Linked DNA regions of Homo sapiens: region 1 is linked to region 2. Evidence: fine-mapped expression QTL. A gene starts in region 2. The other region holds a variant in brackets. All regions are shown on one strand. Distances are from middle to middle.

Region 1 (4,388 bases), 260 kb after region 2:
TGTAACGTTGCTTCCTCTTTTGGCCAGGTACGGAGGCTCACGCCTGTGAGCACTTTGGGAGGCCGAGGTAGGAGGATTGCTTGAGCCCAGGAGTTTGAGACCAGCCTGGGCATATGGAGAAACCCCATCTCTACAAAAAATACAAAAAACTAGCCGGGCGTGGTGGTGCATGCCTGTAGTCCCAGCTGTTCAGGAGGCTGAGGTGAGAGGATCGCTTGAACCTGGAGGTGGAGGCAGCAGTGAACTGTGATCACGCCACTGCACTCCAGCCTGGGTGACATAAGGAGACCTGTCTTGAAAAAAAATCACTCCTGTCTTTGTTCCTCCAGTCTTGGGGTTCTTTCTCTCACAGCATCCCATTTACTTGTGCAGCACCCACTAGTCCAAAGAGGATGCCTTCGTCAAATGGTGAATATGGTCTGTAGCATCTTTTCTGCTATTGATAATCTCCAGCCACTGCACTTTCAACTCTTCCAAACCACTGTCACGATTTTGCTAGATTCATGCTCTCCACTGAGCTGCCTGATGCAACACTGACTAATACAACCACCTAAAACAGTAATAGCAATAATTTCACAAACATTCACTCAGCATCATGAATGTGTTAGCTCATTTGATCCTTGTAACAATCCCATGAGAGGTATTCTAATTGCCATCACCGTACTATGGATGAGTAAACTGAGTCCTTGGGAGGTGAAGTAACCTGTTCCAGGTCATACAGTTCATGAATGGGAAGCTGGGATGTGAGCCAAACACACTGGGTCCAGAGCACTATTCCTACCCCCAACCCCCCAGATAACAGTAATAGACAGTTCCTGGGGGTCAGGAAGATCAAACAGAGCCCTTTGTGCCTTTCAGTTCCTGGAGCACAGTAGAGTTCTAGAGGCCTTTCTCCTTGTCTGGTAGTGAGCTTTTCAGCCCTGGAGGTGTGCAAGAAGGGATTGCAGCACTTCTTCACATGGTATTTAAAGGGAACCTCCTTTCATTTGGTCCCCTTCACTAAACCAAAATGAAAAATATTAAATTTGAAAAAAAAATGGAAGCAAACCTCCTAGCAGTGGTCATCCAGGTGAACCAGATGGTGTTTAAGGCTCCCCAGGCTTCTCTTCCCAGTCCCCTGAAAGATGAAGCCACTTGTAATGTCATCAAGACAGGGTCTTTCGAGATCCTGATGAAATACCACCTCTGCTATGAAGCTGCCCCAGGGGCCCCAGCAGAAAGGAGAATTCCCTTTCTGTCACTCAGCATGGCTTTTTATCTCTGCTGTATAGAGCCAAGCTTGCATTATCAGGTTTGTGTTTGGGTCTTCTATGGCCTGCTGGACTGGAAGCTCAGGGAAGATAGAAACTGACGCCAATGCATAGACCTCCTTCTATAGCCCAATCCAGTACCTTGTATGCTATAGACACTCAATAAGTGAATAAGTGTTGGGTGAATAGATAGACAGATAGATGGAAGGATGAGAAAATTTTAAAAAGGAAGAAAGAAGGAAGGAGAGAGAGAGAAATGGGATAGGTGGATGGGGGAGGAGGGATGAGCAAATATGGATGGATGGATGGACAGATGGATGATGAAAGTATGGATCAATGGGTGGATGAAAAGATGGATAGATAGAAGAATGTATGTATGGATGTATGGATGGATGGAAGGATGGGAAATGCATATAGATGGCTAGACAATAGATTGATTGATAGATGTGAGAAGGTGATGGATAGAATGAGTGGATAGATGGATGGATGGGAAGATGGATAGATGAAAGGATGCATGGATGGATAAATGAAGGGATGCATGGATGGATGGATGGATGGATGGATGGATGGATGGATGGACTGGGTAGATAGTTAGATAAACGTATTTATAGAGACTGTGAGGTGTTGTGCAGTAGACACTCTAGAATTTCTATGTGGGGCCCACAATCTGCCTAGAAGGTGGGCTTGCCACCATATTTGCAGAACACTTTACATAAGATTGAGAAACTAGCTATTGCCCATGTGAATGAAATGAGAAAGAAGTGACAGAGATTATGGAAGCCTAAAACCCCTGCAGCTGCCACTGCAGGTGTGACCATAATCACCTAAAATAGTAAGATTCTGAAAATCTGTGGCCCTAAGAAGATTCAAAGGTTTTAAAGTTCTGTGTCTCTAAAACTTAGACTTGAAGATTCTGTGTCTTTAAGAACTCTATATCTACCAATATGAGCAACATGCTCTGTGCCGGGCATTGTTCTAAGCACTTTAGATACAAAGATTAGTTCCTATAATCCCCACGGCCACCCGTGGTCTAGACACTATTACACTATTACCACCCTCATAATGAGGCACAGAGATGCTGAGGTGTTTGCCTTAGATAACACAGCTAGTAAGTGGCAGAACTGGGATGTCAACCCAATCAGGTTAGGCGGGATCCAGAGTCCCCGCTTTTAACCACCACACAATCCTGCCTCAAGGAATGAAGGATTGTACGCATCTAAGTTTCGAAGATTCAGTGCTCAAGACTTGAAGAGTCTGCAATTCTGAGGCTCTAAGCGTCTCCACACCCAGGACTCTTCAGACGCTGAGGGAGAGAAAAGGAGAGAGAGTCTGGCTGGCTCCTACGAACACCAGCCCTGCTGATGTCAGGCA[C/A]CTGGCTGTCACTCTTCCTGTTAACCTTGGGGAGAAAAACACATTTGTGGCAGATAACAGGCATGAGGGTGTGCCGGCCCTCCACTCACTCCCGGGCCTGATGGATGGGCTACATGGGCCCCCCCGACCTGTGTGTGTACTGTTATCTGCTCAGCCAAGGGAAGCTGTTCATCATGCCGACAGCTTGGCGAGGCACACCTGCTGGGACTGCGTCAACCAGAGCCACCAGCATCCTGGGAGGAAGAAGGGGAGGTGATGGGGGGCAGTAGGGCAGGGGAGACACAGAGAAAAGGGCCAAGGGCTCAGTATCAGTACCAGAGGGTGGCACTAAATTCTGGGTACCATGGATGTGCTGTGTGACCACAGACTAGTCACTTAACCTCTCTGAGCTGTAAAATAAGATTAAGCTTTGCCAGAAACCTGGGGGTTGTACTTTCCTCCTTCTCATGCTCCACATCCAATCACCAGGTTCTGTCCATTCTACCTCCCAGTCTGTCGTGATCCTACCCATTTCTTACCAACAACTCTACCGAAACCACCTTGGTCCAGGCCACCATCATCTCTGCCTGGATGATGCTACAGCCTTCTCCCTGGGTTCCCTCCTTCCTGCCCACTATATTCCATTCTTCACATTTTACAGTTCAGAGAGGTTAAGTGACTAGCCTCTGGTCACACAGCACATTCATGGTACTGCCAGGAACGGAAGTCTGGCATCACGCCCAGAAGTCAGTGCCACGGCAGCCAGAGGATCTCTATTACAAAATGAGATCACATCACTCTCCTGCTTAAAACCCTCTAATAGCTCCCTGTCACACTTAGAAATAAGTCCAAACTCCTTGCCAGAGCCCTGCAAAACCTGGCCTCTCCCGCCCTGTCCATCCTTATGTCACACCTGCCAGCCCCCTTGCGTACCAAGTTTCAACCATGCCACCCATCCCTTTTCCACCTCTTAGCCTTTGCACATGCTGTTCCCTCGGATGCGAACACTCTTCCCCAGCCCTTTGCGTGGCTGGCCAGCTCCCTCTCATCTGCAGCTCTCAGCTCAATTGCCACCCCCTCAGAAAGGTCTTGCCAGCCTGAAGTACTACTCCAGTTCCCAATCTCACTCTGTCACGGCACCCAGTGTATTCCCTTTCTGGGACTGATTGCAACCTGAAATTGTGTTGTTTGTTTCTTTGTGTGTTTATTGTCTGTCTCTCCCACTAGAATGGAAGCTCCAAACGTTATGGGTTGTTGTCTTACTCACTACTGTGTCCCTGAGTGCTTCCTCAGTACAAAACCACACATTCTTTCCACCCCAGGGCCTTTGTGCCAGCTGTCCCTTTGCCTGGAACTCTCTTCTCTGCTTATTTAACGCCTACTCACCCTTCAGATCTATGGCAGGGCATATTTTGCAAAGATAGGCACAACAGCATCTTTTATCTTACGTGTTCTTTATAAAATATGACCTTGAGACTTGTCCTGGGAAGAAGTGGGGCCCGTGTTCCCTTCCCTTGATTTGGGGCAGGCTATGACTTGTTTGTGGCCAATAGGATGCCATGTAAGTGACACTGGGACACTTCTGGAAGGAGGTCAAGGACATTGGCTCTGGAGCCCTAAGCTACATTTAAGCAGCATGACTGTCCTGAGGATGCCATGCTATGAGGAAGCCCAAGCCGGCCTCTGCAGAAAGACCACATGGAGAATCCCTGAGATCACCTACAGAGAAGGAAAGAGATGTCCAGCATCTTCCAGCTGCTCCAGCTCCAGCCATCATCTAACTGAAAC
Region 2 (4,388 bases):
GAACCCTTTCCTTATTTACCACCGCTCTAGCCAGGTCGGTAGAAATGAGGTGAGGGGCATGAAGGGTATGTAAATGATGCACACAGCAGTTACTACCAAACATGGTGAGGCAGAAGGGGGCGGGGAGTCATGGTTCCCAAAAAGCAGAGACCCTGAGGATGGCTTCGAAGCCCCCCTCTCCACTGGAGCAATCCCACTCATGTGTCATACCCCAGCAAAACCTTCCCTGATTATCTACCCTGCCTTACCCCCACTCACTCCCATCAGAATAAATCATCCAATTATCTGGCCTTTGTGCAAACCTCCCCACAGCCCTGGGCCCACAGTGCCCAGCACTGGGGCTGCAGCCTCCCCAACAAGGCTGTCAGCCTGTCTAGTGAAGGGCTGCATGGAAGAAAGGTCTCCTTTGGTTTCATCTATGCTCGAGCCTCCATCCCAGAGCCAGGCTCACAGGGGTCAGGGGGAGCCCCCACAGCTGCCGGGCTCATACAGTCCAACTCTGCTGCCAACTTGGGCTCCTTCGGGGCTAGCAGGAGCTTCTGACACTCAGCCAGCCAGTGCTGGGAATGCTTGTCTGCTCCCCGGCTTCCACAGCGGCTGGAGTTGAGATTTCCCACATTTCAGTCCTCTAGGGCCGAGGATGAGGATGGGGGTACCCTATGGAAGGATGGCACGGCTTCCTGCCCATCCCCAGAGGCAGACAAAAGCACCCGGCATTCCACTTCCACTCCCACTCCCATGCCTCTGGCTGCAAGCAGCAACCCCAACTACTCCGGTGGCTCTGAGGGGCTTCCACCAGGTGCCACCCGCCCAACTGGGAGGCTGCAGCCCCAGGCGACCAGTTCTCAAGAAACAAGGTCTTCTGCCCCCAAGGACCTTTCCAGTGGTATAGGGCTGGGTGTGGAGAGGAAGAGGACAAGGGCCTCTGTGCGGTTAAACCCAGAAGAGTAAAGGCAGATGGGCAGAGAGGAGTGGGTGAGCAAATTGTGTTCATGTGTGTGTATGTGTGTGCCTGTGTGTGTGTGCGCGCGCGCGCACCAGTGTGTCTGCAGGTGGGCAGGCAAGAGTTGTGGCGAAGCGTGTGCGCCAGCTGGCAGAGTGAGCCCACCGGCGCAGTGCCTGATGTGCGTGTGTAGTGGGCATAAGTGTAAAGGCTTGCAGTGAGGAGGGGGACCTGAGGTGTGTGGAGATGTGCAGGGTAGGAGTTGTGAGTGTGAGAAAGCAGCGACTGTGGCTCTGAGTGTGTCCGCGGCTGTGCATATCGGTGTGGCCATGCAGGTGTGCGTATCCGCGCGAGTGTGTGGGGAGGAGGTTCGGGGGTGCGCCCCGGGTGCCCCCTTCTCTGCAGGGCCAGGGTGCCAGGGCGGGTCCACCGCGCCGGCAGGGGGCGCCCCGGGATGCCCGCCACGACTGGCGCCGGTTCGAGCCCCGGGGCGGCCAAGTTGGAGTGGCGCGGCCCGGGTTGGGGTTTGGTGGGGAAGTCCGCGGGGGCGGCGACCGAACTCACCGTGGCCGGAGACGTGGTTGTCCCAGGGCGCGTGGCCGGCGGGCCGCGTGGCGCCGCCGAGTTGCAGGAAAAGTGCCAGGTAGTGGAGGGCGCCCAGCGCTACGGCGAGCGGGGCCCCCATCGTGCGCTCTCGGGCCGGGGGCGCCGCCGCCTCACATCTGGGCCCCGGAGACCGCAGAACCGGCGCCAGCTGTCCCCTGCCCTGAGCGGCCTGGCTGCCCGGCTCCGGCAGCTGCCCCTCGCCCGCTGTCCCCGGACCCGGCCCAGCTCCCAGCCCTCGCCCGGCTCCGGCCCAGCCCCGGCTTCGGGGAGCGAGCGCACGCCCAGCCGGCCGCCTCCGACTGCGGGACTCTTCCCTTCCGCGGAAGGCCACGCCGCGCCGCCGCCGCACCCTCCTCCCTCCTCCCGCCTCCCTCCTCCCCTCCCTCCTCCCCTCCCTCCTCCCGCTCGGAGCAGGCGGCGGAGGGATCTGCCGCTTGATTTATCATCAAAGTTTTGCCCAGGCTGGGATTTTTAAAGCGGTACCCGCAACTTTCCCCCGCCCGAGTGCGGAGGCGGGGCCGGGATGGGGCGGAGAGAGCCACCCCAGGGACGCGGTTCCCGCAAAGCACGACCCAACGGGCTTCAGCCACAGAAATGCCGTCCAGCGGGGAGAGGGAGAAAAGCCAGGGCACCCGCCGCCAGGCCAGCGCACTCAGAGGCTCCTAACTTTACCGGCAGGGCGGGGCCGGGGTCAGGGGCCAGTGGGGCTGGGGGTGAGGGCGAGGTAGGGTGGGAGCCTGGGCTGAGACCCAGGGGACCTGGTGATAGCTCTGCCGCCGACCTCGGCTCGCTGTGTGATCGCGTCCGGGTGTCTACCCCTCTCTGAACCTCGAAGTCTTCATCTGAGAAATAGGGGTAATAGCTGTCTGCGGGGGTCCTGGTGAGGATTTGCGAAATCGTGCATGCAAAGCGCTTAGCATAATGCTGCCTACGTGGTAGGAGCTCAGTAGTTATTATTGTCGGTGTTCCCCTTTCTGGGACTCAGTTTTCGAGTCTTTGTAATGGGAGAGAGACAGGCCAGTTAGTTGTTGCGGCTCCTGGCTCTTGAAGATACTGGACCTTATGTGGTGGATGGGATCGCCCCCTTCTGGACTGTAGGCTCCTTCCCTAGACCAATGAGCCTTGATGGTGTGTGTGTGCATGAGTGTGTGTGTGCGTGTGCGTGTGCGCGCGCGTATGCGTGGGTGTATGTGTGTGTGAGTGTGGCAGGGGAGGGGGATAGGGCACCATTCCCATTCCCAAGAGCAAGAATCCAACAAAGTCCTCCAGTTCCTTCCCAAGCCGTGTTACTGGGGCTGATGGGACAGACAGGAGGGCGGAACTGTGGTCCCATTTAAAAGATAAGGAAGCGCCTGAAATCAGGTAATTAGCTTCTCTGAGGTCCCACGGCGAGTCGGGCGAGGCCCCTGACTCCTGGGCGGGGTCCCTCCTGCTCTCATCCCTTGCCCTTCCCCAGGCCTCCCTGCTCACACAGCCTGGTCCTCCCGGTTTCAGCACCACGGAGGAGGACAGCGCCAGCCCCCCCCCCGCCCCCCGCCCCCCGCCCCACCCGGGCCCATCCTTTGGGCACCGTGGACAGCGTCTCAACTGGCCCTTTGATGCTAGGGTTCACACCGTGGACAGACCCTCAGACTTTCTTCCCCGTCCCCGTCGAACAGGGTCAACCCCTCCGACAGCCCACTCCCCACTCCAGAACACAGGTGGATCCCGCGTCCAGCCGTGTGTACAGCGCCCAAGTTTGAGAACAAGGTTAGAGACCAAGGAACATAGCCCCTCGCCGTCTTCCCTCTGTCTTAGCGCCCCCCTTCCAGTATTATGGGGGGGGGGTAGCACACCGGATGGGGCCCGTGGTAGCCAGCAACAATCCAGCTCCTTCCAAACTAAGGACACCTCCTCCACGATGTCCCGCACTTACAAGCACTGTGTTCTAGCACCGTCCACAGCCCCCGCGCTCCCTTCAGTACCGAGGACAGGTCCCAAGCGTCGACCGCTTCCCCCACCCCCCGAACCTTCTGGACCACATGCCTTGGAGGAAGGGGCCGTGTTTGCCTGATTCTCTCACTTCTCACTTTCTTCCCACACAGAGGTGGTGTTTAGGTTATCCTGGGCTGGCCAGGCGTCTTGGACTCTATGCACGTGTTTTCTCATTCATTAACTACCCTGAACCCCGCTCCCAGCGAAATGAACTACTGCTTCCATCATAAAGATATGGAAACTGAGAATCCTCCAGATCACATAGCAGCCACCATGTTAGCCAGACTAAAACCCAGGACTCCTTCAACCCCAGCCTGAGGCCTCACCAGGAGACTGTGGTGACAGAACTGGGACTCAAACCCGGGCTTTCTCCTCTTAAACCACAGATTGGAGGGAGCAGACACAGGCAAGGGGACAGGGAGGGAGAGGAGATTAAAGAGGAGTAAACAAGAGATTGCTCAGGCCTGCAGAGGAAGGGGGTCTGGCGGGATGGCAGCACATTGCTGCTGTGCCCCTAGCCCACCGGCTGACCTTCAGAAATCTTTTCTCTTTGAAGCCTGGAACAAGGTCAAGGTTCCTTCAAGGACAGACATCCAGGGATTGTATGCCTTTGAAAATGCTCGTGATCGGCCAGGTGTGGTGGCTCACGCCTGTAATGCCAGCACTTTGAGAGGCCGAGGTGGGCATATCACGAGGTCAGGAGTTCGAGACCAGCCTGACCAACATGGTGAAATCCCATCTCTACTAAAAATACAAAAATTAGCCAGGAGTGGTGGTGGGCACCTGTAATCCCAGCTACTCAGGAGGCTGAGGCAGGAGAATCGCTTGAACCTGGGAGGCGGAGTTTTCAGTGAGCCAAGATCAC

Which allele goes with the higher level. Positions count from the first base shown, and alleles are read on the strand shown. Sizes are in standard deviations (SD) of each study's normalised expression.
For the expression in spleen of the gene that starts at base 1,852 in region 2, C is the low allele of the variant in region 1 and A is the other (large effect, 0.79 SD a copy in GTEx).

The links. PIP is the estimated chance that this variant, and not a neighbour inherited with it, causes the effect.
Region 1: its variant is fine-mapped to the expression of VSTM2L in spleen (GTEx, PIP above 0.99).

Annotation. Positions count from the first base shown.
Region 1 is chr20:37,639,728-37,644,115 of GRCh38, reverse strand. No RefSeq gene overlaps it. Among named protein-coding and RNA genes, the nearest start is that of LINC00489, 19 kb to the right of the region's middle. The variant C/A (reference allele first, on the strand shown) is at 2,622.
Region 2 is chr20:37,900,591-37,904,978 of GRCh38, reverse strand. VSTM2L (V-set and transmembrane domain containing 2 like) reads right to left here and starts at 1,852. Exons shown (of 4, transcript NM_080607.3): 1 at 1,508-1,852. The coding sequence starts at 1,628. All of the region lies in intron 2 of LOC124904896 (a long non-coding RNA gene), which reads left to right. RefSeq lists an enhancer at 1,589-2,552.